4 linked regions of the Homo sapiens genome follow. The protein of the gene in region 2 interacts with the protein of the main gene of each other region in a biochemical or structural test. Each region holds a gene or a part of one and is shown on either strand. Other genes may lie near its edges. The genes, in order: RANBP9, THRB, ANP32A and C1D.

Region 1 (7,796 bases), on a different chromosome or scaffold from region 2:
ACACACACACACAGTCTACAGTAACAAGACAAGAGGAAGAGGCAGTAGAAAGGGAAAAAGACTTTCTGACAAGGGGTAAGAGAGAGACAAAGGAAAGATAGAAGAGAGGAAAAATAAAAGGATAACAACAAAATCTGTTCTTCCAGAAATAATGATTTATGTTTATAAAACAGTTATGTTCCCAGAAAGTGAACCTTAGTATTACACAACAGAAAGTAATAAAGAGGCCAAGAATAAAAACAACTGAGACAGCAGTGTCAGAAATATTCCAAACTCCAACTAATTTCATATAAACGTGTATTTTTCTCTGACCTAATCATCAATTTTATGTAAAAGACTAAAACTAATCAAGACACCTTACAGTACTAAATAAACAGTAATCACGAATCTTAGACATCACGGAAATTCAGAGCTGGAAATTTCCTTACCAATCGTCCAGCTCAACTTACACACCACTCAGAGGAAGAAACTGAGGCTCAGTCTTGTAAAATATCTACAACCACAAACAACTGCAGAACTCAGGAAATCTAGAATTCTTTGTTCATCTACACTGGCTCTGACTTTATGAGCAAATTATTTACTGTCAACCATAAATTTAAAATTATAAAATTCTGTCACATCTAACAATAGCTTTCTGGCAGCCAGATCAGAAGTAAACACCTCATAACATAGCACCGTTCACACAAATTAAAACATAAAAGTAGAAATACTTCACAAGGAAATTAACAAAAGGTCCTAACTTGAGAAAAAACAAAGATTTGATATTGTGAATGAAACGTTCAGACGTTTAGATTAAGGAGGATAACACTTGGAAGTACTTCTTTGGATGTATGGCGAGAATAAAAAGAATGTTCAACAAGGCCTATTTTTGTGCGTGATTCTTTGCAGCCAAATCATTTGGTAGATTTCTATTGCCATTCGCCTTTCTGATTAAATAGTAACTTACTTATCAAGCTTCTTCTCAAATTTCAGTCCCGTATAAGTTAAGAATTTAACCACAAGGTTGTTTATCTCCTCTACATACATGTCACTAGGATCTGAGTAGACCCCTTTACAGCCAATCAAAGTGAGGCTGCCGTGAATGTAAAAGCTTCTGCTTTAGGTTTGGGGCCTAAAACCCTGGATTTGTTTCCAGACAAGACTGATACGTTAGGTTGATTTTTTTTTCTTCCACACAAGTAAACTTGATACATGCTATTAAATTGGGCTACATTTCAATAGTTCCCATAGCAATTCATAATTTTATATACAACTGATTTGCTTCCAGCTTTGTTTTAACCTAGGAGAGGTAGGTGAGGGAGGAAAGGGGCAAGCACAAGCCTAAGGTTGTTGTTTTTAACTGCAAGTGCAAAACATAAGCCAATTTTCTTCAAAATACTAAGCTGCATTTTGTTCCATCTTCGTTTTCAACAAGACTTCATGTGATATCAACACCTAAGGACCTGTATAGGGCACTTCCAATCGGGAGGGGTAGGTTTCTGCTCCCCTAAGAAAAAGGGTGTTCCTGGGGTTCCCTTCTCTTACCCTCCCGGTTGCTTTTACTAAAATATATTGATGGCAAACTTGGGCCCCTTGTCCTTTTGTCCCCCTAGACAATCTCTGGCCTAATTTTGATTACTCCTCCCCCTGTGTATCCCTGCTCTCTCTTAATTAGAAATCATACCTCAGAATCGTGCCTCTCTTCCCCCCTTGTAAGAGGAGAACGCCTGACCCACCACCTGGAGAACAATGTAACCCAACTCCGAGTCCATGGATTCCTCTACCCAAGCCCCAAGATTTATCTCCCAGGGAAATCAGAAAGCCAGTTCTGTCCTGTCATCCCGGATTCCCTCAAGGTGTCCTGCTCCTGGTCTAGGATTACCAGCTCCTTTCTACCCTGGGGCATTCTACTCACCTTCCTTTTCCAAGAATCTCGCCCCTCACCCTCGGACCCTTCACCGCGACCCCCGCGCCCACCCGGAGCAGCACAACAGGCGGCGAGTGGCCTCCGAGGGCAGAGCCCGCGAGGGCGGGGGTCGGGGGCGGGTCGAGAGCGGCGCAGCGGCGGCCGGCCACGTCGGGTCAGTGCCCCACTCCCACCGCAGGACACACGCCCAGTACCTTTGTAGTGCACCCGCAGGTTGTTCTGAGAGAGGCCGATGTAGCTGAACTTGTCCTTCGGGCTCCAGGACCGAGGCAGCGGCGTCTCTTGTTCGTCCACGGCCGGGTAGAGACGCTTCAGCCGCCGCTGCAACTCCTTCTCCTGCTCGTTCAGGGCCGAGTCCCCGTGAGGGAAGGGGGCCGCGGCGCTGCTGCCCGCCACCAGAGCTGGGGTCGGGGCTCCTCCAGCCGGGCCGGGGCCCGCTGCAAGGCCCGGGGGAGCGGGCGGCCCGCTGGCGGGGGCAGCCGCTGAGGCAGGGGGAGGCGGGGGCGGCGGCGGGGGCGGCGGGGCCGCGGTGGCCGGGGGCGGCGGCGGCGGAGGGTGGAGGAGCAGGGCGGCCGCCGCGGCCCCTAAGCCTTCGCCGCCCGCACCGCCGCCGGGCGAGCCGGCCGGAGAAGAGCCGGCGCTGACGGCCGGGGGCGCCGGCAGGACGACTCCGGAGACTGGGGCCAAGGCCGCCGGCGGTGGCGGCGACAGCTGCTGCTGCTGTTGCTGCTGCTGCGGCGGCGGCGGCGGCGGCTGCCCGGACATCCCGGCCGCGACTCAGCCTGCGGCCACCTCCACCTCTTCTCTCCTTCCTCCTCTGCTTCCCGGGGGCGCTGTCGCTGCGGCCGCCGGCACCAGGCGCCCAGTCCGCCCGCCCCGGAAGCAGGCGGCGGGCCGCGCGCCCAGGGAGACCGCGGCGGTTGAGGAGCTCGGAGACGCGGGAGTAGGCGGCGGGCCCGGGAGGCCGGGAGAGAACGTTGGCCGGAGCGCGGGCGCGCGGCCCGGGGACGAGGCGCCGAGGGCGGGGGCGACGCGGGAGCGCGGGAGGGGAAGGCGCGCTGGCGGCCGCCGCGGCCGCTGCTCTCGCGGCTGTTTCCCGGCGGGCGGGCCGGGCCGGCGCGAGACGCTGCGCGCGGGCGGCGCTAGGCGAGGGGGCGGGACGGAGGCGCGAGAGAGGCGCGAGCGGTGCGAGGGGGCGGGCCGCGGGGCTCCCGGCTGTGCGCCGCGAGGCGTCCTCCCGGGCCCGCCAGTCGCTCGTGGGCAGGATCGCTGGGCTCCCGGCGCCGCAGGTCCCTTCGGAGGTGTCCGCCTCCTCTCCCTTGGCGGCCGCCGTCGCCCCCCTCGCCGGCGAATCCCCTCCCACTTGACTTCTTTTTGTTGTCGTCGCCCCACCTCCCCACCGTAGGGCTCCTCGGAGCCGAGGCGCCGCTTCTCGTCCAGGCGAGAGTAATCGAGCCCCGCTGGGGCCGCCGCGAGCCCAGGCCCCGGGGCGCTCTAGGACCCGTCGGCCCGGGGCGTGCGGAGCGGCTCAGGCTCCCCGCGCAGTGCTGCTAGCTCTCGCCTCAGTCCCGTTCCCGTTTGCCGCCTCCCTCCAAAGAGGAACGCATTGCCTTTGGTACTTCAGTGTTTAATTCCGTAGCATTGACCATATGGGCAGTAGAAACCACTTCTGAAGGCAGTCTCCCACTTAGAATAGTGACTGTTTCATTAATTAATTTTACGAGGACTCACAGTGAACTTAACAGTGGTAGAAGATGTCATTAATAAAGACCGGCATATCTTCAAAAAGCAGGAGCAGGCACTGTATGAATACAAGATTATAGTGTGTGTTTAGGAAGGGCTTCTAGAGACGTCAGAACATTTTATAGACTCGTTAATTTTCATAACAGGGTTCTTAGGTAACAGAAAATTATGCCCATTTTTAAAACAAGGAAATATTTACCGAGATCAGCAGAGTCAAAAATAGGACTTCCTACTTTGCAATTCCCAATAGAATGCTTCGTCGACTAATTTGGCACAACTTGCCAAGTGTTGCTCTCTGACCCATCATAACATTACTACTTTGTTTTCACCACTTCCCTTTGTTTAGCTTATCCCTCCCTAGCTGGCAAAATCAGGCTTTGCATATGTAAATTGTGTGATGTAAATTCTGATATTTTGTTTGCTTCCAAAGATATGATGGTAATCATTTGGTCAAATAAGAAATGTTTTGCCGAAGAGAAAATTATTTCGTTTTGAAGAAGGTAGGCCAAAGGTGATTTAATTTAAGGCCAAGATTATCTGGCCAGAACAAATAACAGAGTCATTCGGCCTAATTTCTCCCTCAGTTACCCAGACAACTAGATGTTCTGTTGTACTTTTATTATTATTATTATTATTGTTTTGTCGCCCAGGCTGGAGTGCAGTTGTGTGGTCTCAGCTCACTACAACTTCCGCCTCCCGGGTTCAAGCGATTCTCCTGCCTCAGCCTCCCAAGTAGCTGGGACTACAGGCATGTGCTCACACCCAGCTAATTTTTGTACTTGTAGTGGAGACGGGGTTTCACCATGTTGGCCAGGCTGGTCTCGAACTCCCGACCTCAAGTGATCTACCCGCCTCAGCCTCCCAAAGTGCTGGGATTACAGGCGTGAGCCACCATGCCTGGCCTCTGTTGTAGTTTGATAGAAATATCCATTAATTTTAACCTGTTGTTTGATGACTTTTTTTAAACCACTGCACTTTGAATCACATGATGTCACTGTATTTACAGTGTTCTAACACTTTCATTTATATTACAGTAACAATGAGTTCAATGTAAGCCAAGCTCTATTTAAATGTACGATAGCCATGTTAGAATAAATGGGCTCCAGACGTCATTAAACTTTCTTGAAACACTTTTGAAGATGTACTTTTTTTCTGTCAGCACACTTAGGAACTATCTAGAACTTTCCGTATCTTAGGAACAGCTGAAGGAATAGAATTGTCTAACATTTTGTTGGAAGCATTTTATAAGGGGGACTGGTGGTTCTCCATCAAGAAATTAATGATTTCAGTTGTGGGGGAGGATGCTGTGAAATGAGTACTTTCTCATATAGAAGGAGATAGAGAACATTGATAACGTCCTTTTGGAAAGCTACATACTTGGTTATATTTATAAGGAGACATAAAGGAGTTCATACCTTTTGACTTATCTATCAAAAAGCCAAACAACACAATCTAAATATGAAAATACTTTAGGCTGAAAAATGTTCCACAAGAAGTATTAATGGTAGATTAAATATAGAAGCAAATCAAATGCCCAACCGGAAGAGACTAGAAGAAATTCTAGTCACATGTGAAATTCTAATCACATACCCCACTCAGTGGAGTTATGCTACAGGAGCACATATAGCACATTCGTGCCATTTTTTTTTAAGGTATCCCTTCTGGGCAGTGGAAGTGCCAAAAGAGGTCAACCAATTAGAAAAAGGCACCCCTTCCTCTTGACTTAGTGGATCCTGGGCCCACCTTCAGACCCACTCTCTCCAGGCTTCTTGCACAGGCACAGCCTGAAACAAATATTTTATGGCCTCTTAAAAATATGTTATTGAAGACATAGAAAAATGATTATGATATGCTAAATGAAAAGAGGCAATACGATAATTATAGCACTGCCAAAATCATTACCAAAAAGACATGAAGGAAAAATTGTAAAATGTTTCCATAATGGACAATTATAATGCATTATTAAAAGTAATGTACTTTTATTATGAAAATAATAGAATTGTACATAGATATGTAAATAGTAAAAATCCATTAGCCATGAACATATCCACACCCTTCTTGAACCTATGTTTTCAGTCTTTACCATGTATTGCTCTAATATTACCCAGTATCTGTATCTGCTGGGTTTCTCAGTATCGAACAATAGGAACCAATTCTGGCTCTCTTAAGCAAAAAAGGAACTTACTGGAAAGATATTAGATGGTTCTCAGAATTGACCAGAAGGCTGGACAAGCAGGCCTGAAAACTGACAATGGCCAAAGGAGGAGAGGCTGCATAAATAGACTGGCCTGGACCCCAGCACTGATCACAGAAATCACTGCCAGATGTCACCTTCAACACCTGGACTCTTATCTCTCTGACCTCCAGCCTTTACACCACTCACTCAAGTTTCAAAGTCACCAAGCCTAGATTGTGTGCCCATGCCAGAATACACCAGCAAGCAGAGATTCCCAGGTTATCCAGTGACTGGGTTACAGAGATGCTACGTTATTGATAACTTCAGCTCAGGGTGGGCCTTGAGTGGTTACAGCCACCAGAACTGGTCCCTTCCAACAGTGAGCAGTCTTGTGCATTCAGAGTACCATACACATCTTATTTTCTGTGCATGGCATAACATGAAAATGTTTAGGACACATTGCCCTAGTGGAAAAGGGCCACTGGTGCCCACAGTAGAGGATTTTCCATACTAGGAAAGATACTAGGAAAGAGGTAAGATGCTGACCAGCCTGTTTCAGTCAATGCCCATGACAGTATCCTTCTGAGTACTGGAAAATGTTATGGCAATGTGTGCCAAGATCTATAGTATGGTTTTAGGGTCTGGATTAGTTATCTATGGCTGCAGAATAAATAATCCTCAAATTTAGTGGCTTAAAATAACGTTTATTATCACACATTTTCTGTGGGTCAGGAATCTGGCACAACTTCACTGGATCCTCTGCTTCAGGGTCTCTCATGAGCATTAAAGGTGTCAGTTGGGGTTGCAGTCATCTCAAGACTTGACTGGGGAAGAATCCACTTTCACACTCACTGATGTGGTTATCACACTCATTGATGCAGTTCCTTGAGGGCTGCTGGACTAAGGGATTCAGTTTCTTGTTGGCTATTGGCCAGAAGTGGCCCATGATGCCTTGCCACATGGGCACCTTCAACATGGCAGCTTGCTTCATGAAAGCATGCAAGCCAAGGCAATCGTGGCAAGACAAAAGTTACAGTGTTTTGTAACCCAACCACGGAAGTGACATCCCATCACTTTTGCCATATGTTTGTTAGAAGTGAGTCATCAGTTTCATCCCATATTCAAGGGGAGGGGATTACACAAGGCTATGAACACAAGAAGGTGAGGATCATTGAAGGCCGTCTTTGGAAACTGACTCATACAGGGTCCTTGTAACTTCCAGTGACCCTGGGGAACTGCACTTGCCACATTCACATCAAATATGGATTCTAGACCAGGGATCAGCAAACTTTTTCTGTAACAGGTTAGATAGTGAATATTTTAGGCTCTGCGGAACATAGTTACCTGTCGCAACTACTCAATTTTGCCATTGTAAATGAAAGTAACCATAGATGATACATAAACAAACGGGCATGGCTGTGATCCCGCAAAACTTTATTTACAAACATAGGGAGCAGCCTGGATTTGCCCTACAGGCTTCAGTTTGTGATTCCTGTTCCAGACTATTACATCAACGTTCCTTATAAACCATTCTCAACACTAAAAATGAAAGCCAAGTCACTAGCAATGAAATCCTAGGAGTCAACAAATTCATTTTATTACCCACAATGCGTGCTGCACTCCAGTGTCCGAGGCAGCCTGATGCCACACGAATGGAGTAAGCATATTTCTGCACGTAGTGTGGCAAATTCAAATGGATGACAAATGGCTGAACAATGTTAGTAAACTATAGCAATAAAGGGTCCAAGTTTGGGAAAGTTCTCAGTCAGCATTTATGAAGCACCTGTTATGTTGGAACCCTGGGTCCTGTCTTCTCTAGGCAGGGAATGAAGAAAAGAGGCAAGACAGATTACAAAGAAAAACAGCAGTATGGAATCTACTTCTTCGGTGAACAGTCTAGTTGGAAAGTGATACGGTTTTGAGAGATGACAGCATGTTGGGAGCCCTCGCTCACTCTGGGTGCCTCCTCGG
Region 2 (7,259 bases):
TGTCTTCCAGGGATCAAGGTAACATGTCAGAAAAATTCTGCTGCTGAGGATTTCCATGTATTCAAGGCAAATGCCCTTAGGAGGAACTCGCAGAAATAGCTCTTTGCATTGTCACTACACAGAATGGAAGACCAGCTTTTATTTCGAAAAGAAAGAGAGAGAGAGAAAAATAAAGAGTGAACCATATAAGCATGGAATGTGTGCAACACACACATACACATGCACACACAGAATAGATCTTGGCATGCCCAACTGGCACCCACTTAGGATGTGTAGTCAGGTATTTTTGAGAACATAATATTTGGACACAATCATTAATTTATTCACCAAAGAGTTATCCAGCACCTACTGTGTGCCAAGTATTGTTCTAGATGCTGGAAAATAAGAGTGAGTGAGGCAGTCAAGAGTCCTGTGCTCATGGATTCGATATTCTAGGCAAGGATACAGGCGATCAACAAGCATCAATTGAAATGAACAATTCAGATTGCAAATACAATAAAGGAAAGAAAAAGAAGAACAAAACAAACAAACAAAGAGAAAAACCAGTGTGATGGGTCTGAAAAGGAATGAGGGACCGCCTTTGCTCAAGTGGTCAGGGAAGGGCTTTCTAAGAAGGTGACACGTAATCTTACACTAGAATGAGAAGACCAGGGCGAAGAAACCAATCACCTTTACTCTGATTTCCATCAAAAAGATGGGCTTACTAAAAAAAGAAACATGCAATACCATTTGTGGCTCCACACAACTCATGCTTTAAACAACTGCAAAAACCCCAGGAGAGGAAAGGAATCCACAGCTTTCTCTGCTTTTAAGGCGATTTTAAGAAATCACCTTTCCCAAAGATAATGGATTAAAAAGTTGTCTTAATTCATCTCTAATTATGGCAGAATTTACTACAAAGAAACTGAAAGGAGATACATGGAATATTCATTCCTCTACATAATGTCAGTTGCTTTATGTAACAATATTCCAATGTCAATAAAAGTATACCTTTGCATTGTAATGCCAACAGGAATTATTTCACTTTAAAAAACCAGTTCTGTAGCTATACTCAGTATTATTTATTTTTCACTGGCTATAAAATAAAGCCAAACTGTATTTACTAGCAGATGGTCTCACTTCCAATATATAATAAACCTCTGAGATCAGGTAAAAATAGATTCTGTTAGTATTTCTTTAACATGCTCAAATTATAAATGATCGTTCACCAATGTCTTTGTATAAAACACTCCAAACAAATCACTTGGTACTGGATTTCTGTTTGACTCAATTAAAACACTTAGCCACCTGGCATGAAAACATCCTAAAAACATCAACTGCTTAAAATACTTTGCACTGAAACACGTTTTTCATTGTTTCCTAGCCTCTGACTGATTTCGGAATTAGAAAGAATTAAGCAGAAGTGAATTGGGGAGCAGGTCAGTCACTGAATATTCAGAATGAATCATGAACACGTTAAAATGCAATTTTTATTTCTTTGCAGTGCATTGCATGCTATACATTCTTACAATTTAAATAAGCATACTAAACTAAAGCCAAATAATGTGAAGATTGCCCAACAGGTCTACATTACCTAATACATTTATCATTATATAAACTGCTGTGCTTGATATTAATACACTGTGCAAGGAATGCTTAATTTCTTGAACTTCCACACAGGTCTTTAAAACTGAATCTCACTAGTACCCAAGACCAATAATGTGCTGAGGAAGAAGGTATTTCAAATATATTTACTGATTACACAGTGTTTGAATCTTCAAAAATTCTAAATTTATGTGGACAAAGGAGAATGGAGAATCTGAACTTGGCTGTTCATGCAAACTCTTTCCTTTCTTTGACTCACTTTATGAATTGTTATGTTTCTAGATCCTTCTTTTAAAATTTTCCATTTGGGGAAACTTGTACATTTAAAAAAAATTCATCTCATTTTCTCCCTCCCCCTCCTTAAAATAAATAAGAAGGCTTAAGAATTAACACTAATAATAATCCCACAATGGTCATTGGGAAATCCTCCCCCAAAGTGACAACTGCCGCTAAGAAGGGCAAAATCCACTAAGAATGAAAATTCCCCCAAATGAGTCCTTCTCCGAGGGGGTGGAGGTCACACAGTTGGCACAATTGGTATCACAACCAACTCGAGGAGACCCAGAGGAAGATGCTGCGCCAAGAGAAGCAAAGCGAAGGAGCGCGACCCAGGAGGCTAGCGAAATCCCCGCCAAGCCCCCAGGAGGCGGAGAGAAGCCCAGTCGCCAGGCACCGGCCACGGCGCACGCCAACATCCAGGATAATTCTCCTTTCCAAGCCCGGGAGTTCCGGGGCAGGCGAAAAAGGGGGGATGGGAGACCCACAGTCCCTTTAACCCTCCCCCCTGGCCTGCCAACCTTTTCCGAACCCCCATGTCACACAACTTCCTCATCATGGAAACTTCCACTGGGTTCGGCGCTGAGGATGCCAAACTCCATTTCACAAGGAACATGTCAACAGCTGGGCTTGGGGTTTGAGGAACAGAGCCGCTGCGATTGGAACAGAGCCCGGCCACCCTGTTCCACCACTGTCCACTCCGTAGCTCCCAGCCTGCCGCCGCGCGGTGCCCGAACACGAGAGGGCACCTCCTCCCAGATCCGGGGCGCAGAAGCCCCGCGGAGGCAGGTAATCAGGCTGATGACACCCCCACCACCCACGCTCACCCGCCTGCCCGCCCGCGCGCGCTCGGCTTAGCCGCCCGCACCCCTCCGGGTTCTTGCGACGCTCCGTCACCATCCCGCCCACCCTGTGGACAGTTGGAACTGTCGCCCCCTCCTCCTCTCACCCCGCTGCCTCCGCGCGGTCCTCTAGCCAAATTACCAGTGCCCTGGAGCCGGTTGGGTTGAGCGCCCCTGCCCGGGGAAGGTAGCCTGCGGGCTCTTGCCCCGAGCCCGCGGAGCAGGAGGTCTCTTTTCCAAGCGCACTCACATTATTCATGCAAAGTTAATCCCCGCCGCGTCACGGCCGCCCGCCCGAGGATGTGCGCCTTCCTTGGCCAAGCCCCGCAGTCTCCACCCTCCTCCGCCCCCTCCTCCCGGCGGCGGGGTCCCGGGGAGCGCCGGCGACTGGGCGTCGCGCGAGTCCTGCAAAATGTCAACTCCTTGGGCGAAGAGAGGCGGCCGCAGCCAGGGCCGCGCCGCACCTCCCCGGTCTCTCCACTTTTATAGGCGTAGGAAGCTACTGCGGCTGGGGCACCAGAGTCCCCGCCTCTCCGGGTCCCCCGCGTGCCCGGCCCGCCCCGGCCCGCTTCCCGGGCGCTGTCTTACTCCGGGCCCGGGGCGCCTGCTCCGCGCCGCGTCTGCGAACCGGTGACCTGGTTTCCCCTCCAGCCCTCACGGCTGTCCGACTTGCGCGGCGGTGGCGGCGGCGGCCAAGAGCAGGCAAACCCGGCTCCGCCAGGGGCGCAGCGAGGAAATGGCCTCCTGGCGCACACCCCGCCGCCGCCGCCAGCCATCGCCACCGCCCCGGGCTGCCCAGCCGGTACAGACGCCCCCTGCCAGGCTCCGGGCCAGCGCTCCGACGCGCTCACAGCGCCCGGCTTGCCGACCCCGACCCCGACCCCGAGTCCTACGCACTCGAGGTCCCCGGGCCGGCCGCCTCCGCACCTGCCTCCCCAGGTGTGGGCGCTCCCCCTCCTCCTAATCCCGGCCGTGCCCTCCCAGGGTTGGTGACGGTGCTGTGGGTTTGGTGGCCGCGCGTCCACCCACCCGATTGCCTGCGCGCATAGGTGCGGGTTTGGGCGTCATTACTCTAGTTGGAGAAGAGGAAAGAATGGGGAACGAGTGACACCGGGACCGGAGGGCGAGTCTTCCAGGAGCACGTCTCGGCCTTCTTTGCCCGGCCCGACCGGCCCGACCCGTGCCGCAGCGCTCCTCCCTCCGCTCCTAAACCACTTGTGGCGCGTGTCGGGAATACAGGGCGCTCTGGCTCTTCTTGGGGCCTCCGCTGGTCCGACCATCTGGCAGCTCTCTTAACCACCACGGCCACCCCACGAATGGAAGTTTGGGACGTGCCTGGGTTGCCCTTAAGGAGGACACCCCCGCCCCCACCGCCATTATGCATATCGTGGGAGAGGCGCGTACAGGGCTGAGACACTCCTCAGGTCCCAGAACGGCCGCCCTATTAATTTGTCTTTGCCCTGGAAATGTATAGATAAAACCAGGAAGACAAAAATAATGTATACTCTTCAAGAGATCTTTCCCGGGCAAATATAGGTCTCTCAAATGCCCCCGACCTTAAGTCCTGGAGACCAGGAAGAGACTTGCTTTCTGAGCTAGAAGGATACTTGGGAAATACCGAGTCCTCACTCAGCTAAAAGGTAGTCAATAAGGAACTATAGTTGCAACAAAACTACTTTGACAACAGAGTACAATTAATTTCTTATAGACAGTATTAAAATAATTCCGACATCATAATTTAATATTCACATCTATTCGTGTAACACGCAGTATAATAGAGTTATGACGATATGGATCCTCAGCTGCCTGACAATGTATAGGTTATTTATTGGAAGGTTCTCTAGATTTCCAGCCAGTGACATGTATGTTTTATTCTCGCTTCTTCTGAGCGTCCCAGGGAAAGGGGTGAGAGGCCCCCCACCCCTGCTGACAGCATTAACAACCACCCCGCTGGATAAGCAGGGTTTCACTGATGCACTTTTAAGAAAGTTGCAGGCCCCAGAGACCCCATTTCCCTTTGGTCCTCGGTGAGAAGTCCGTGCTTTCTTCTCTACTCTTAATAAGTCTGCACCATAGGACTTGCAGGCTTCTGTAGTTGGAGAGCTGTTCTCCTTTGCAGGGAAGTTCCTGGGCTTTGCTCCAAAGCTGCCCCGGAATGTTTTGGTTGGTTTGGAGAAAAGCTGTGGCGTCTACACCACTTGTTCCAAGCAGGCGGCCCCCTGGTGGCTAACGGGGGGTGAGAAAGCTGGCCACTGAGGAAGAAGTCTGGCGCAGGTAGGCCCCAACAGTTGACAACCTAGTCTTCGGGTCTTCTTCACAGCGTGTGAACAGCTTAGTATTACCGCGGGGGGGCGGGAGGGGGTTGGGGGGTGGTGAGGTGAAGCAAATCTTCCTTCAACACGGTGGATCATGGGCTTCTCGGCCTACTGGAACTTTTAATTTTTTTCTCTTCCTGAGTATAACTTGGAGCTAAATTATTTAAGAAGGAGACATACAGAGGACAAAATGAAATGTAACAAAAACTGTTGCTTCTCTTTGTTCAAGGGCTTTGTCTTTCTGATCTCATTTTGCCCAGAAAATTCAGAAATGAGCCAATTAAAGCATGAAATAAATAAAGGGCGTGGCATTATTCAAACAATCCATGAGACTGTGGTAGTAACAATGTTCTACAACAATGGGGGAGGGCAGTTTTACTGCAATGTTAATGATAACGTGAACTACTAGGGTTCCATTTTGAACAGGACCTCTGAGGGCTGTCCTACAGGCTGCATGATGATGGTAAAGAAGGGTTACCAAGAGATCATGTCATTTATTTTTCTGGTTTTACACAAGGTAGGACAATGGAGGAGAATGTCATGATGACTTGATTGAAGGAAGAACATTTATTCAAACTTTAGATTATGTGGTCATGTGTTCCAGCTGACTTGAGAGGGCACACCAAGGCTGTTTCCAGGACCCATTCCCATATTTCACCATAGACATCCTCATTACCAGGATCTATACCTTTAAGCTGATGACTCAGTTCAAGAAAGCAATTCATTCATATATTTATTTATTTAGCAACTACTGGTGTAAGAAAATGAATGAAACAGAACCTCATAGGGCTCGGATTGGGCAGAAGTGAGTGAGGCCAGTGATACAAGTGCAGGGTCTGAGCCTGCCTTTATTTAAAATTTTGATGTATTGTTCATCATGAATAATTGTTGCATTAATTTTGATTTTTAAAATAGTGCATTAAAATATTTCTCCTGATTTACTGAGGCTTTTTTTTTTTTCTTTTTTGGCATCCCCTTAAATTTCACACCAGGGATGAGTGCCTCACTTGCCTAAACCTAGTCCCTGCCCTGCTATGCCCTCAGTGTTACCAGAGTCTTTTCAGAGAAGCAAAGTTCAAGTTAGAATGTCCTAGATGTCAAAGATAATTAATATATAGTGAAGGATTTGGGGTCAGGGAGTTAGAGACGTGGGCGTGAGGGGAGGGAAAAATCAGGGAAGATTTCATGGAAAATGGTGGCACTTGAACCAATCCATCAAAGATGGACCACATTTTGCCAGGGAGTATTGGGACTGGAACCCCTGGTATTGTTTTGCTTATTCAGCTACTTCTCAAGCTGGCTGTGCAGCCACCTGACCTAGCCCTGGAGATTCTGCTTCTGTCTGTTCATTGTTAGTTCTTGGAACTTATTTTTTCTATGAGGGCTCCAGTGATTCTGGTCCATAGCAGCTGGGTAAGAACTCCAACCCTTCAGGAAAGACAGCTTCTTGGGGAAGATGACAGGGTCAAAATTATCTAATTCAAGTACACTCTAATTCACAGCACAAAACTAACTTTTTTATTTCATATCTTGATATATGCCCGTTTTTACCAACACTCTGCCTTTGGCTTACTTTTGAATAAAGGAGACCAGAAAGGAAAAGGAACTATAGGTTGCCTTATCTTTCTCTTTCCTTCTATGTCATCATTTTCAAACTAAGTGGTTACAGAGAAGTATTAACATAAGAAAAGACAGAGAAAGTTTCCTTGGTTGTTACCTTCTTTTTGCATTCAAATCAGGCTTTGGTTGGAATGGAAAGCGTGGCAAACCCCATTTTGGGGTTGTCAGTGTCCTCACTTAGTCATTGATGTGACATGCTTACCTCATACTCAATTTGAGTTTTGCAGAACTCCCACACATTGTGTGCCCACAGGGATTCTGTGCTTATGGGGCAACAAGAATGCTATGTGTGAGTGGAACAAGTAAAGAATGGCAGCAGCTATGCATGTTATCTGTATTTCCTCTGTTCATGCACATGCTCCATTGTCCCATCAGCCTTCATTTACAAAACAAAAGTTCAAAGATAAAATTATTAGGAATTTCATTACGGTGACAACAGAGCATTAAATGAAGTGCCAGGCCTCAAGCACCAAGCCCTTCCCAGCATGGGTTGTATGCAGCTGTCCAGATCACATGCCCATGAAGCTGGCCATGGGGAAAAAACTTGATCCTTTATTGTGGTAGAAGCATAGGGCATGTTGGAGATGCAGTAGACATGCTGGCATGGCTGGTTATAGCAAGG
Region 3 (7,736 bases), on a different chromosome or scaffold from region 2:
AGTGCAATGGTGCGATTTTGGCACATGGCAACCTCTGCCTCCCGGGTTCAAGTAAGTCTCCCGCCTCTGCCTCCCGAGTAGCTGGGATTATAGGCACGTGCCACGAAGCCCGGCTTTTTTTTTTTTTTTTTTTTTTTGTATTTTTAGTAGAGATGGCATTTCACCATGTTGGCCAGGCTGGTCTCGAACTCCTGACTTCAGGTGATCCACCCGCCTTGGCCTCCCAAAGTGCTGGGATTACAGGCGTGAGCCACCATACCTGGCTTTTTTTTTTTTTTTTTTTTGAGACGGAGTCTCGTTCTGTCGCCCAGGCTGGAGTGCAATGGAGTGATCTCTGCTCACTGCAAGCTCCGCCTTCCGGGTTCACGCCATTCTCCTGCCTCAGCCTCCCGAGTAGCTGGGACTACAGGCGTGCGCCACCTCACCCGGCTAATTTTTTGTATTTTTAATAGAGACGGGGTTTCACCGTGTTAGCCAGGATGGTCTCCATCTCCTGACCACGTGATCCGCCCACCTCGGCCTCCCAAAGTGCTGGGATTACAGGCATGAGCCACCGCGCCCGGCCTTTTTTTTTTTTTTTTTAATGAGACAGTATCTGGCTATGTTGCCCAGGCTGGAGTGCCGAGGCGTGATCTCTACTCACTGCAATCTCCACCTCCCGGGCTCAAGGGATCCTCCCACCTCAGCCTCTATTGTAGCTGGGACCACAGGTGCACGCCACCATGCCAGGCTAATTTTTTTTTTTTTTTTTCATTTTTGGTAAAGATGGGGTTTCACCATGTTGCCCAGGCTGGTCTCGAACTCCTGAGCTCAAGCTATCTGCCTGCAGCTTCCCAAAGTGTTGGGATTACAGGCGTGAGCCACTGCACCTGAGCCTTTTTTTCCTTTTTAAAAGAAACCAACCATCTTTAAGCGGTTTTTAAGATTTTTACTGTTTTTTGTTTTTAGAGAAACAGGTCTTGCTATGTTGTCCGAGCTGTTCTTGAACTCTTGGGCTCAAGTGATCCTTTCACTTCAGCCTCCCAAGTAGCTGGGCCTACAGGGGAACATCACCATGCCTGGCTTATTAATTTCACTTTAAAAGTCACATATATGACAGTTTTCATCCAACAGGGCTTTTTCTCCCTGACCAATCCATTAATAAGGTAACTATCCAATCATTAAAAAAAAATTCTTTTTCTAAATTATCCAATACTTTATTAAGCAAAATAAAATAATATTTAACTTTTTAGATCCCAGGCTTCAACATTATTTGCTATTCAATGAAAATAAATAAAATGTAGTGGTTTTCACATTTGTTACCACAGATTTCAAAATAATAATCTACATTCCTAAAAACTATTTACATATACAAACAAAAAAGAACATAATTAAGCTGGAGTTTTTCCATGTCATTGTCTTTGGGGTCCAAGCAGCAGAACCATGATGTAGGTAAGAGAGTACTACGGCCGATTGCCAGTGATGTGATTCAAGCTCAAGAACAAAAAGTTGAGCTGTGGGTATATTAGCTTGACTCATAAAAAGGATGCTAACCAAAGGGTCTCCATCTTTAGAGACCAAACAAGGGCAAATGTGCTATTGGTGCAAAAGTAATTGTGGTTTTGCCTTTTTTAAAAAAAATGGTAATTACTTTTGCACCAACCTAATAAAATGGCAATAGTAACGATATGGTTATTTGTAAAACAGTACTCTCCTACACATTTCAAAAGAGCCTAAGGACACTCATTGTTCATGTCTTTGAGAACAAAATAGGCTGCTCATTTATTTGGAATGGTTCTTGATGGAGGATATTCTGGAAGGCGGGAAGATCTTTCCTTCCTGGGCCATCTATCTCTCTAGGGGGTTAAACTTTGAATTGTATCTCATTTATTCTTCTCAGTGTGACTCAAACCTAGTTTCAGAGGTTAGAGACTCTACATCTTTCAAACACAATTCCTGTTGTAGAATTACTCAGTAGATAGGAACTCTTACCTGTTCCCAACTCCGTTTCAAAATTCAGCCAAGATTCCTTGATATGGGATTTCTTTCTATATTTTCTGAAATGCAGTGCCACTTAGAACACTTATTTACTATTATAATATACAATAAAATGTAATTTAAAAAACAACTTTGTAAAATAAGATATTTGTAAGAGCAGTGGTTTTTTTTATATTTGGTCATGTTGTGTGGGGCAAATACAGCTCAGCTTTGGCTTTACTATATTCCTTTTTTAATAATAAAAAAGCAAAATCATATGAAAATTTTCTTACATATAGATCTATTTGTAAAAGCAAAAGAAAATTTATTTCAAGTGTGTAAGGAAAGCGGAAATTACTCAATTGGTTATACATATACTTTTGGATATTTCAATTTCTGTAACGACTGACATCCAGTGAAGCCTTCTTTCAATTTTCTAACATTAATACAAAAGTCATCAAAATGTATAAATGTAAGATGCTTCTAAAAACAACTGTCACATTTAACGTTTTGATTTAGTAATCAGGCCATGATTTTTTCGATTCTAATTTGTTTCTGTACTTTCTCTTTAATGGGGGAGGGGGTGGGCTTCTAAGTCTTCCTCTTGAGTCTTTGTACAATAAAGTGAGCTATTTGCTTCTATTTAGCAAAGCTGGATGGGGCATATCTCTGCATTTGATTGGTTGGTTTTTAAGGGATTACTCCTCTGGAAAGACACTGTCTCATATTGCATTGCTAGCAGCGTGGTCTTAACTGTGGTTAAACTTTTAAATTGAAAATGAACATTTACCATCAAAGAGAACACAAACTTCAGGACTCCTATGTTACACAGATCATACACACCATATTGACCTGTTTTGATAAGAGTTCTGTTTGAATACAATCCTAAACACCATATCCAGAAATAACAACTGTCTCAATGGCATAAATAGGAAATTTGGGGTTCCTCATGTATTACAAAGAAGCCAATAAAACTTAGAATAAATTCCAACTATACAAATAGGCTTCAATAAGATTAACAAAATCTGAGGATGACAGGCAAGTCAACAAGTTAAATAAATTATACTATTTATACCCAGATAAAATAAAACAATGACTTCTAACTTTTATGGTGCATTTCCCACCTAATCAGAGTAAACATCAGACTTCAAATTCCATTTATCATTTTATCTGAAAGAATTTACTGAGTAAAATCCTTAGTTGCAGGGCTTTACACTTGCAATCCATCAGGTTGCAATATTAAAGTTACTACAGCTTCTTCCCCAGTGTAAGCATTCTGTATGTGTTTTATTTACATTGTCACTTTTTATTTCCTCCTCAACTTCGTATGTCTAAGAATGAAACTGGATTGCTATTATGCAACAGTATTTTAACTTTGCAACATACATACTGGCTTATCTCTCCTTTGAACTCCTGTTCCTGAAAAATAAACATATGTATCCAGAAAAACTACCTTGAGGCGTGTGGGGAAGAGTGCAGACATGTAGAAACAAACACTAAAATACAGTCGTGTGGAAAGGTAAGGATGTATCTGTCCTCGTTGACAACAATCCCCGTGGTTTATTAACAGCCACAGGCAGCCAACTTAGTGCCGTAAGTCGGTAACCCAGTGGGCATCGGGGCTTTAAGGTCTCTTAAAACTTAATGTGATTCAAAAATACCCAAGGCAACCACGCCGAAAAACCAGGAGAAAGGGCTCCAGTTAGAGCCTCCTTGGCAACCCAAACCGAACCGAATGACTCAGGTGGACGATTAGAATAAACCGTGCGCCGTTCTCTTTCACTAGGTCTATAAAGCCCAGAAATTATGTTTGGTCCAGAAAACCAGGAGTTATGAGCACCTTCCTTTTCCACCTTTTAATATTCTACATATCTAGCAACGGTTCTTAATCCATGGTCTTCATTCATTTATTGCCTAAACAAGATCTTGGGTGTCTCTTGGTGATCACTTCTTCCAAGCTGACCTAATATGACAGCAAAGTGAAAAGCCTCTTCGTGGGAAGGGTCGCGACCGCGCGGTAAGTCATCCAAAAGTGGAAGCATCTTGCTTTTACTGACTTATGTATACGAGGGTGGCGATGGTGGCGGCCTGACAGGGACGAGGCCGGAGGGGAAGGGGCGCGCGGGCTGCTGGGCAGCCGCGGTGGGGGTGACGGGGGCAGCCACGCTCCCCAGCGCGAGCCGCCGGACCCGGGACCCGACGAGCCCCTCCCGGCATTGCACCCTGACCCCTCTCCTCCTTCCAGGCCTTTCATCTGCCCTCCCGCTGGGCAGCCCGCGGTCCCCGGACCTCAAGCCGCCCGCCTCCTTCCGCAACCCCGTCGCGCCGCCCCGCGAAGCCCTCGGCCGGGCGGGGACCCCGACCCGACCCCTCCGGCCGCGCCCCTCCCCCTCGCAGAACGCACCTGCGGCCCCGCCCCCGGCCGAACGCTGAGGCGGCGGCTGGCTGGCAAGGCCGGGCGGCTCGGCCCTCGAGGCACAGTCACCTTCCCTTCCCCCGCCATTCCGCCCACCCCCCTCACTCAGCCACAGAGCAGCCGCCGCGCTCCTCAGCCGCCCCGAAATCTAAAGGGGTCCGTCTCCGGCACCACTACCAAATGGCCGAGCCTCCCTGGCCGGCTGCGCAGCCCGCCCATTGGTCCCTTCCCCCCCCCGCCGCCACTGCCATTGGCTGTTGCCCGGAGACCCTCGGCGGCGATTGGCTCGGGCCGCTGCCGCTCGTCCATGGGGCCGCAGATCCCGCCTCCACGGCGATCAGGTTAGTGTGCGCCGCGGGTGCTGGGGGCTCGAGAACCGAGCGGAGCTGGTTGAGCCTTCAAAGTCCTAAAACGCGCGGCCGTGGGTTCGGGGTTTATTGATTGAATTCCGCCGGCGCGGGAGCCTCTGCAGAGAGAGAGCGCGAGAGATGGAGATGGGCAGACGGATTCATTTAGAGCTGCGGAACAGGACGCCCTCTGATGTGAGCATTTGCCAAAAATATCTCTGTCGGTCCATTCTCCTACTTTGTGTGTGTGTGTGTGTGTGCGCGCTGGGGGGAGGCACTTTTTTTGGGGGGGGGCGCCCGGGAGGTGCGGGTTTGGGGGTCGGACTGCAAGCGAATTGGCAAGGCTGGGGGGTTGCAATGCCATCCGAGCATGTTCCGGCTGCCGCCGCCGCTGCCCTTGGTGTGTGACTACCTGTGCGTGTGCTCCCGCGTGTGCGAGTGTGGGTGCGAGAGTGTGCGTGCGAGTGTGCACCCATCGGGGGCCGGCGGGCGCACGCGTTTGGGTCGGAGAGAATGAGGCGAAATCACCCTCGGAGATCGCTGCTCCCGTGACTCCGTCTGGGGGGAAGATTAACGAGGGAGGAGGAGGAGAGGGGCTGCCTCCTGGATTTAACAACAAAAAAAGGGGGTTTTACATTTTATAAATGTATCCCCCCTTCCGCCCCCCTCCCGCGCCTCCCCCCTCCCTTTCTCTCGCTCGCTCGCTCGCACACACAATAAGTTTGGGGCTTCGCGAGTCCGGTTTAGTTTCTGATAAATGTGGGCCGAGGCCCCCGGGGAGAGCGCGTGGGGAGGGGGCTGCAGCGGAGTTGGGAATGGCTGGAGTTTAAAGTGCGTCTTCATTTCTTTGCAGTGATGAGGCGAGAGACGGGGGAGCCATATTTGTAACTTTGTAGTGTTCGTGAACGCGCCCTTTCTCTCCCTCCCTCCCTTTCTCTGCCTCCCTTCCTCTCCTCCTCTTTCTCCCTCACTCTTTCCACCCCACCTTCGGGCCAGATGCTGATGTTTCTTCCTTTCCTTCCGAAGGGAGGATAAATTAGAAGGAGGGGGAGGGATTTTCGAACGTGCTAAGGCACAGATAATCCCCGCGTCTCCCTGCCTCCAGCGATCGCTGGTGCAAGTTGCCCAAAGGCTACGTCCCGGTGCCCCCTCGCCCCAGCTCCTTCCGGCTTCCCCAAGATGCCAGCCTTTGGGCCCTGGTGCCCCCCAGCTCGAACCCCCGGCCCGTCTTTCTCAGTGCTGGGCTTGTCGGCAGCCATTCGGCGCCTGCTTAATAAATGGGCACGGGAAACTTTGTCAGGACGCGAGCTGCCCGGAGCTGGCGCCCGTGGTGGGTACTGGCTGGGTCCACGTTTATGCGGGCATGGCAAACACGCAGCTCTAGGATGGGAGTTTGCCCGCTAGCCGCCGTTATTGATTGGGCAGCGGCGGGAGCACGGCCGGAGGAAACTTACACGGGTGGGAATCGCGAGGCTCGAGCGAAAGCTTACCCCTGAGGAGGGGGAAGGTGAGGGTGGGTGACTCGAACGCTGGTTTTTATTTCTGCCTCCCTCTCGCTTTCAAACCTGAGTGTTTTCGGCGAGTTGGCGGCTCTGGGGCGGAGACCCTGGCCAGCTCCCCTCTTGGCCCCTTGGGGGGACCGGGGACGCGCTGGCGGGAGGACGCCCCCAGTCTCGGTGGCCCGAGCTCCATGGAGTTGGGAGTTTGGGCAGCACCGTGCGCTGGCCTGTCGCCCCTCTAGCCCGTTAAACCCGAATCCCGGCGAAGGCAGGCCTCGCTTCCTCTTTTCCCTAGTTCCTCCCCCAAACCTGAGTGAGACTTTTGAAAACAAGATCCTTTTTGTCTACCCCCTCCCCGCCTTAACGCAGCTGTGGACTGGAGACGTGCGAGTGCCTTATGGCGCGCAGGGCGGGGAGGGGGCGGCCGCGGGAGAGGAGGGGGCGCCGCCGGTGGAGGCCGGAGTTTCCGCGCACTATTTGCGGGCGGTTTGCCTCTCTCCGGCCGCTTTCGTCCCGGCCGGGACCCGGCGCCTAGCGTTTGGGGGCTGGGTGTGGTGATGGGGGAGGGGGCCGGGGCCGCGGTCTTCCCGCGTACTTTCCGGAAGCCCCCTGCGCGGAGGGGGAAGGGCGCCAAGCGCGGGGCCGGGGTCGCCGCGGGTGGGTGCGGGGGCGCGGCTGGCCTGGCGAACCCGACCGACGCTGCCGGCCCCCCGGGAGCAAGCAGGAAAGCGGGTCGAACCGGCTCTTTAAACTTCCACGAGTGTGTGTGTGTGTTGGGGAGGGGAGCGCACCGCGCCGTACTGGGAGCGATTTCTCACGCTTCGCCCCCTCGCCTCCCAGCCTCGCGGCCCACACGCCTGCCCCCTGCCTGGAGGCGGGGTGGGGCGCGGGTGGCGGAGGAGGGGGCACTTTCTGCACATTTGCGGGGGAGGGGGAGAAAGCTAGCGAAAGAGGGACAAAAGGGTTGGGGGAGGAGGAACTGTATTTTTTTAAACGTTCTTAAGACAAATGGCTCCCGGAGCGCGCCCCCTGCGCCCCTCCCCGCCGCGCTGCCCCTGGGCCCCCCACACACCCACCTTCGGCACCTCTCCCAACTGGGCTCCGGGAGCTGGTGGCCATGCCGCGACGCCGAAATAGGACGAGCAGCCATGTTTCCCGGGGCTCGCGCCGCACGCCCCGCCCCTCCTCCCCGGCGCGGGGCGCAGGGCTCGGAATGCGGGCTCCGGGCTCCATGTGGCGCGGGGCGCTGGCAGGCGGGCGGCGGGGGTGCAGTACGCGCGGGGCCGGCCTTGTGGCTTTCTAGGCTGGTTTTGAGTTCCAGGTGTTTTATTTATTTATTTTTATTTATTTATTTTTTTTAACGGCTAGGCCCACTCGGGGCTGAGCCCGAAGGGCGCCGAGGCGTTACTGGGGGGCAGGAGCCGCCTCCAGGGCCCTGCGCGCCTGTGGCACGACTGCCGGGCGCCGGGCTGCCATTTTGTCACCGTGGCTGTTGTCGCTGTGGGGGGCGGGGGGAGC
Region 4 (7,209 bases), on a different chromosome or scaffold from region 2:
AACAGACATCAAAAACTTATCATGTCCTTAACTGAACTCCGAATCTTCCCACAAACCTGCCCCTCCCACAGTTTTCTACTTCTCAGTTAATGGCAATTCCCTTCTTCTAGTTGCTCAAGCCCCAAACTTTGACAATAACCTTATTCTTACAATTCACTTTCAATCTGTAAGCAATTCTGTTTGCTTTTCCTAGAAAATACATCTAAAATTAAACTGCTTCTCCACCTTCACTTCTTTCCAGCCAGTTAAGATGTTATCATCTCATCTGAACTACAACACCTCCGTGATTAGTCTCCTGGTTTTCACCTACCCCACCCCACAGCAAACTATTCTTAAACACAGCAGCCAGAGAAGATTCTATTAAAACGTGAGTCAGGCTGGGCGCAGTGACTGACGCCTGTAATCCCAGCACTTTAGAAGGCTGAGACAGGCGGATCACCTGAGGTCAGGGGTTCGAGACCAGCCTGGCCAACATGGTGAAACCCTAACTCTACTAAAAACACAAAAAATTAGCTGGGCATGGCGACGGGTGCCTGTAATCCCAGCTACTCCGGAGGCTGAGGCAGGAGAATCGTTGGAACCCAGGAGGCGGAGGTTGCAGTGAGCCGAGATTGTGCCACTGCACTCCAGCCTGAGCAACAGAGTGAGACTCCAAAAGAAAAGAGGGGCGAGATGGGGTGGGGCAGGGCGGGCAAGGGCAGAGCAGGGCAGGAAAGGAAACAAAAGAAAACAAAAGACAATAAAGTAAAATAAAATAAAATAAAACAAACCTAAGTCAGATCATGTCACTCCTCTCCTCCTACCTTTCCATTGGTTATTTACTCACTGGGCTATTGCTCAAGGGAAGATTCATGTCGAGGCACATTTTGAACTCCACATCACTAACATAATGTCTTGTCATGTATTAGTTAGTTAGCAACTATTTGTTTACTAACTAAAACCAATCAAAGTAACCTAAGACGTAATTTTGGAAACTCTTAATATCAGATTACAGTTTGAGCTTACAGATACTAGAAAGTCACCACATGGATCCAAACAAACATACGATAATGTACATTCCAGGGCTCTTCCCATCTCTACACCAAATAATTATACACAGTTATGAACTAAGCCAAAGAACAAATCCAACATGATTGTTTTTTGGAATTTGAGAGCCATTTGCTGTTGTTGCACCAGAATTCTATTACTGTAATGAATTACTGTAATGACTTTTTCGCACTGCATTATCTTAGGAGAAAATAACAATGAAATGTACACACAAGTTCTCAATAAATATTGCTGTCTTGGGCAAACAGTGACTCCATGTTAGTGTTGTCTGTAACTCTCCTTCAGTCCCACAGTACAATTCCTGAGTAAATATAGACTTCTTCCTTTTCTAAAAAATATATTAACATCTAAAAATAAATTTATCCCAAAGTCTAATAGGAGAGTATATAAATTACGAGGATATTGCTCAAGATTGAGATGAACAATTACATTAAATTAAATTCACTTCTATTCAAAGTTTAATTCAAAGCATTTCCAAAATTACAGCAATCAAGCAGCAAAATTACCTTCCAAAACATATGGAAGTTGATTATTACAATTATCTTATTTCTGAAATAAGAGTATATAGTGTTGTTGCACAGATTAAATAAACTAGATAAAAGCCATTAGAACGGGGCCTGGCTCAGTTAGCACTCAATACATTAGATAGTATTTTACTAAAAGTGAAAATTACCAAATACTCTAATCCAATGTGAACTATTTAGAGCCATGCTTGAAGGGTCAACTTTGGAAACAGTAGCTGAGATAATACATATGAAGAGCCATTTGAAAAGGTAAAAGCAGTTAAGAAAAAAATTACATTACTTTTGAACTGTGATACATACAACACAGCTAACTGAAGGCAGCTGTAGTATCTTTTGACTGAGAATTTTATTTTGAAAAACCGTTATTCACACTTGTCACTATCTTTCAACAAAACAATGAGTTCTATCATTTCCACCAAACACAAACATTTCTCTGTACTTCAATAGGGCTAATCTGTTGTTTTTGAATCAAAAATACAGAGTTAAATAACTAAAAGTATAACTGGATTGTTTGTAACACAAAGGATAAGTGCCTGAAGGGATGGATACCCCATTTTCCATGTGATTCTTACATATTGCATGCCTGTATCAAAACATCTCGTGTACCCCATAAATATATACACCTATGTACCCACAAAATTTTTAAATTTAATTTTTTAAAAAATCACGGTTAAGTCTTGGTTCAGTCCACCATCAGACAGTCCTAATAGGTTAATAAGTGGATAGCAAACATCTCATTGCGACAAATACATCTTTATCAAGCCAAAACTGAACTGTAGTCAGCAAACATTGAGGACATTAAAGCTATTTTGAAACAAGTTTGAGTTACACTGAACTTATCCGGGTCATCAAGAAAAACTGCTCTCTTGGATTACCCACTACAGATTTCAGCTAAAGGTCGAAATTAGCCCACTATCTCAGATGAGCTAATACTGCAGCAGCAGGCAGTCTGTGAATGTGAATGATAAACGGAGCTAACACAGTAAAGTTACTCCCCTAGACGTTCCACTTTAGCCTCTCTCCCTAAGCAAGATTGAAAACAGCTGAAAATTGTGAAGACTTCAATGTTTTTTGATTTTTGTTTTTAATTTCTTCGTCTTCCAAGATTTGAGAAGGGGGTGGTTAACAAACGAAGAAAAAGAGAGAGACCGGAGCAAAAGAGAGAAATGAGGGGCCGGGGTAAGCCAAAGCCTGCAAGCAGCCCCAAAACAAGCGGAAGTGGGGGACCTGCCAACAATGCTGCCCCAACGAAGAGCTGTGAGAGACTGCATTCCTGGAAGGCTACGCAGCCAAACTCCGATTTTCTCAGTCTGCCCAGAGGATGACAGGGGAATCCCAGGAGAGGAAAAGCGGAGTTAAACAGGAGCAGGAGAAAAACTGAAACTACACCTTAGAAAAATACCTCACGGCCTTCGACTCCAGTCTCCCGGAAAGCGGTCGGGCAACGATGACGACAATGACGCGCCGGCTCTGCCCCCGCCACGAGCGGCGCTTCCCGATGATCTCACGCTGCTCGCCACGCCCCCTGCTCCTTAACTCTTCTCCAAAGGCAAATCTCATTTTGAGTAGCTCAGACCCATGTTGTGGGAGACGATTGCGGCGGCACTCGGAACTTTTGTCTACCTTTGTACCCGGCTAACACTCACCCCAAATACAGGTTGAGTGTATTTAACCAGGAAAAAAATCTTAGTTATCGAAACTTTGTTCGGGTTTTTACTTTCCCAGAAGCTTTTTTCAGGGCCCTCATTCTTTCTACCCTTTTATTGTCTGCCTCTAGATGAGCCTCTTAGAGCAGCTTCCCAGATTATCCGTGGGGAAGAACAGGTTCTTTATTAGATTATCCGTGGGGAAGAATGGGTTCTTTATTTTTCCAATCTGTCAGTAAAAGGTACTTCTATAAAATACAGTAAAAATGAATTAGTAGAAAAATGGGGAAAATATGTGCAAAATACAAGCCCAAATTTTTTATTAGTTTCAAATAAATGTAAAATTGCATTTCAATGTATGCAATCAGAACAAACATAATAGAAAATAAAGGCATTAACAGAAACTGTACATACTGTTCATTGAAAGTGTAGTATAAGCGATTGAGCATTGTCTTAACATTTGTAACTTGTCATTCCACGGCTGTAATTTGATAAAAAGTTATGCATGAAACAGTTGTCCGTATATTAAATGCATGTAAAAGCATTTTGAACAAGCACCATGTATGTAATATTTAAAGTTTTGGGGGAGGTTCCAAAGTGGCCGAATAGGAACAGCTCCAGTCTACAGCTCCCAGCATGAGCAACGCAGAAGATGGGTGATTTCTGCATTTCCAACTGAGGTACCGGGTTCATCTCACTGGGGCTTCTCAGACACTGGGTGCAGCCCACAGAGCAGGGCGAGGCATGACCTCACCCGGGAAGCACAAGGGATCAGGGAATTCCCTTTCTTAGCAAAGGGAAGCCATGATAGACGGTACCTGGAAAATTGGGACACTCCCATCCTAATACTGTGCTTTTCCAACGGTCTTAGCAAACGGCACACCAGAAGATTATATCCCGTGACTGGCTCAGAGGGTCCCACGCCCACGGAGCCTGGCTCACTGCTACCACAGCAGTCTGAGATCAAACTGCAAGGCAGCAGCGAGGCTGGGGGAGGGGCGTCTGCCATTGCTGAGGCTTAAGTAGATAAACAAAGTGGCCAGGAAGCTTGAACTGGGTGGAGCCCATCGCAGCTCAAGGAGGCCTGCCTGCCTCTGTAGACCCCACCTCTGGGGGCAAGGCATAGCTGAACAAAAGGCAGCAGAAAGTTCTGCAGACTTAAATGTCCGTCTGACAGCTTTGAAGAGAGTAGTGCTTCTCCCAGCACGGAGTTTGAGATCTGAGAACGGACAGACTGTCTCCTCAAGTGGGTCCCTGACCCCCGAGTAGCCTAACTGGGAGACACCTCCCAGCAGGGGCCAACTGACACCTCATACAGCTGGGTGCCCCTCTGAGATGAAGCTTCCAGAGGAAGGATCAGGCAGCAATATTTGCCATTCTGCAATATTTGCTGTTCTGCAGCCTCCGATGGTGACACCCAGGCAAACAGGGTCTAGAGTGGACCTTCAGCAAACTCCAACAGACCTGCAGCTGAGGGTCCTGACTGTTAGAAGGAAAACTAACAAAAAGAAAAGACATCCACACCAAAAACCCATCTGTACGTCACCATCATCAAAGACCAAAGGTAGATAAAACCACAAAGATGGGGATAAATCAGAGCAGAAAAGCCGAAAATTCTAAAAATCAGAGCGCCTCTTCTCCTCCAAAGGAATGCAGCTCCTCACCAGCAATGGAACAAACCTGGACAGAGAATGACTTTGACAAATTGAGAGAAGAAAGCTTCAGACGACTGGTAATAACAAACTTCTCCGAGCTAAAGGAGGATGTTTGAACCCATTGCAAAGAAGCTAAAAACCTTGAAAAAAGATTAGACGAATGGCTAACTAGAATAAACAGTGTAGAGAAGTCCTTAAATGACTGATGGAACTGAAAATCGTGGCACGAGAAGAACGTGACGCATGCACAAGCTTCAGTAGCCGATTTGATCAAGTGGAAGAAAGAGTATCAGTGATTGAAGATCAAATGAATGAAATGAAGCAAGAAGAGAAGTTTAGAGAAAAAAGAGTAAAAAGAAATGAACAAAGCCTCCAAGAAATATGAGACTTTGTGAAAAGACCAAATCTGCATCTGAATTGTGTACCTGAAAGTGACTGGGAGAATGGAACCAAGTTGGAAAACACTCTTCAGGATATCATCCAGGAGAACTTCCCCAACCTAGTGAAGCTGGCCAACATGCAAATTCAGGAAATACAGAGAACACCACAAAGATACTCGTCGAGAAGAGCAACTCCAAGACACATAATTGTCAGATTCACCAAAGTTGAAATGAAGGAAAAAATGTTAAGGGCAGCCAGAAAGGTCAGGTTACCCACAAAGGGAAGCCCATCATAGTAACAGCTGATCTCTCGGCAGAAACTCTACAAGCCAGAAGAGAGTGGGGGCCAATATTCAACATTCTTAAAGAAAAGAATTTTCAACCCAGAATATCATATCCAGCCAAACTAAGCTTCATAAGTGAAGGAGAAATAAAATCCTTTACAGACAAATATACTGAGAGATTTTGTCACCACCAGGCCTGCCTTACAAGAACTCCTGAAGGAAGCACTAAAGATGGAAAGGAACAACTGGTACCAGCCACTGCAAAAACATGCCAATTGTAAAGGCCATCAATGCTAGGAAGAAACTGCATCAACTAATGAGCGAAATAACCAGCTAACATCATAATGACAGGATCAAATTCACACATAACAATATTAACCTGAAATGTAAATGGGCTAAATGCTCCAATTAAAAGACATAGACTGGCAGATTGGATAAAGAGTCAAGACCCATCAGTGTGCTGTATTCAGGAGACCCAACTCACATTCAGAGACACACATAGGCTAAAATAAAGGGCTGGAGGACGATCTACCAAGCAAATGGAAAACAAAAAAAAGCAGGAGTTGCAATCCTAATCTCTGATAAACCAGACTTTAAACCAACAAAGATCAAAAGAGACAAAGAAGGCCATTACATAATGGTAAATGGATCAATTCAATAGGAAGAGCTAACTATACTACCTATACATGCACCCAATACAGGAGCACCCAGATTCATAAAGCAAGCCCTTAGAGACCTATAAAGAGACTTAGACTCCCACACAATAATAATGGGAGACTTTAACACCCCACTGTCAATATTAGACAGATCAACGAGACAGAAAGTTAACAAGGATATCCAGGAATTGAACTCAGCTCTGCACCAAGCAGACCTAGTAGACATCTACAGAAATCTCCACCCCAAATTAACAGAATATACATTCTTCTCAGCACCACATCACACTTATTCCAAAATTGACCACATATTTAGAAGTAAAGTACTCCTCAGCAAATGTAAAAGAACAGAAATTATAACAAACTGTCTCTCAGGCCACAGTGCAATCAAACTAGAACTCAGGATTAAGAGACTCACTCAAAACCGCTTAACTACATGGAAACAGAACAACCTGCTCCTGAATGACTACTGGGTACATAACAAAATGAAGGCAGAAATAAAGATGTTGTTTGAAACCAATGAGAACAAAGACACAACATACCAGAATCTCTGGGACACATTTAAAGCAGTGTGTAGAGGGAAATTTATAGCACTAAATGCCCACAAGAGAAAGCAGGAAAGATCTAAAATTGACACCCTAACATCACAATTAAAAGAACTAGAGAAGCAAGAGCAAACACATTCAAAAGCTAGCAGAAGGCAAGAAATAACTAAGATCAGAGCAGAACTGAAGGAGATAGAGAAACAAAAAGCCCTTCAAAAAATCAATGAATCCAGGAGCTGGTTTTTGAAAAGATCAACCAAATTGATAGGCCACTAGCAAGACTAATAAAGAAGAGAGAATAATCAAATAGACACAGTAAAAAATGATAAAGGGGATATCACCACCGATCCCACAGAAATACAAACTACCATCAGAGAATACTATAAACACCTCTACACAAATAAACTAGAAAATCTAGAAGAAATGGATAAATTCCTCGACACATACACCCTCCCAAGACTAAACCAGGAAGAAG

Evidence for each region.
Region 1: the proteins of THRB (region 2) and RANBP9 form a complex in vitro, tested with the Homo sapiens proteins (one study listed by BioGRID).
Region 3: the proteins of THRB (region 2) and ANP32A form a complex in vitro, tested with the Homo sapiens proteins (one study listed by BioGRID).
Region 4: the proteins of THRB (region 2) and C1D form a complex in vitro, tested with the Homo sapiens proteins (one study listed by BioGRID).

Annotation. Positions count from the first base shown.
Region 1 is NC_000006.12:13,708,835-13,716,630, forward strand, and holds the start of RANBP9 (ran-binding protein 9), read right to left. Parts: upstream 3,002-7,796; 5' UTR 2,672-3,001; coding exon 2,101-2,671; intron 1-2,100. UniProt on the Homo sapiens protein: May act as scaffolding protein, and as adapter protein to couple membrane receptors to intracellular signaling pathways. Acts as a mediator of cell spreading and actin cytoskeleton rearrangement.
Region 2 is NC_000003.12:24,491,843-24,499,101, forward strand, and holds the start of THRB (thyroid hormone receptor beta), read right to left. Parts: upstream 3,009-7,259; 5' UTR 2,810-3,008; intron 2,650-2,809; exon of another isoform or gene 2,245-2,649; intron 1-2,244.
Region 3 is NC_000015.10:68,817,876-68,825,611, reverse strand, and holds the start of ANP32A (acidic leucine-rich nuclear phosphoprotein 32 family member A), read left to right. Parts: upstream 1-4,716; 5' UTR 4,717-4,860; coding exon 4,861-4,914; intron 4,915-7,736. UniProt on the Homo sapiens protein: Multifunctional protein that is involved in the regulation of many processes including tumor suppression, apoptosis, cell cycle progression or transcription. Promotes apoptosis by favouring the activation of caspase-9/CASP9 and allowing apoptosome formation.
Region 4 is NC_000002.12:68,059,985-68,067,193, forward strand, and holds the start of C1D (nuclear nucleic acid-binding protein C1D), read right to left. Parts: upstream 3,021-7,209; 5' UTR 2,974-3,020; exon of another isoform or gene 2,961-2,973; intron 1-2,960. UniProt on the Homo sapiens protein: Plays a role in the recruitment of the RNA exosome complex to pre-rRNA to mediate the 3'-5' end processing of the 5.8S rRNA; this function may include MPHOSPH6.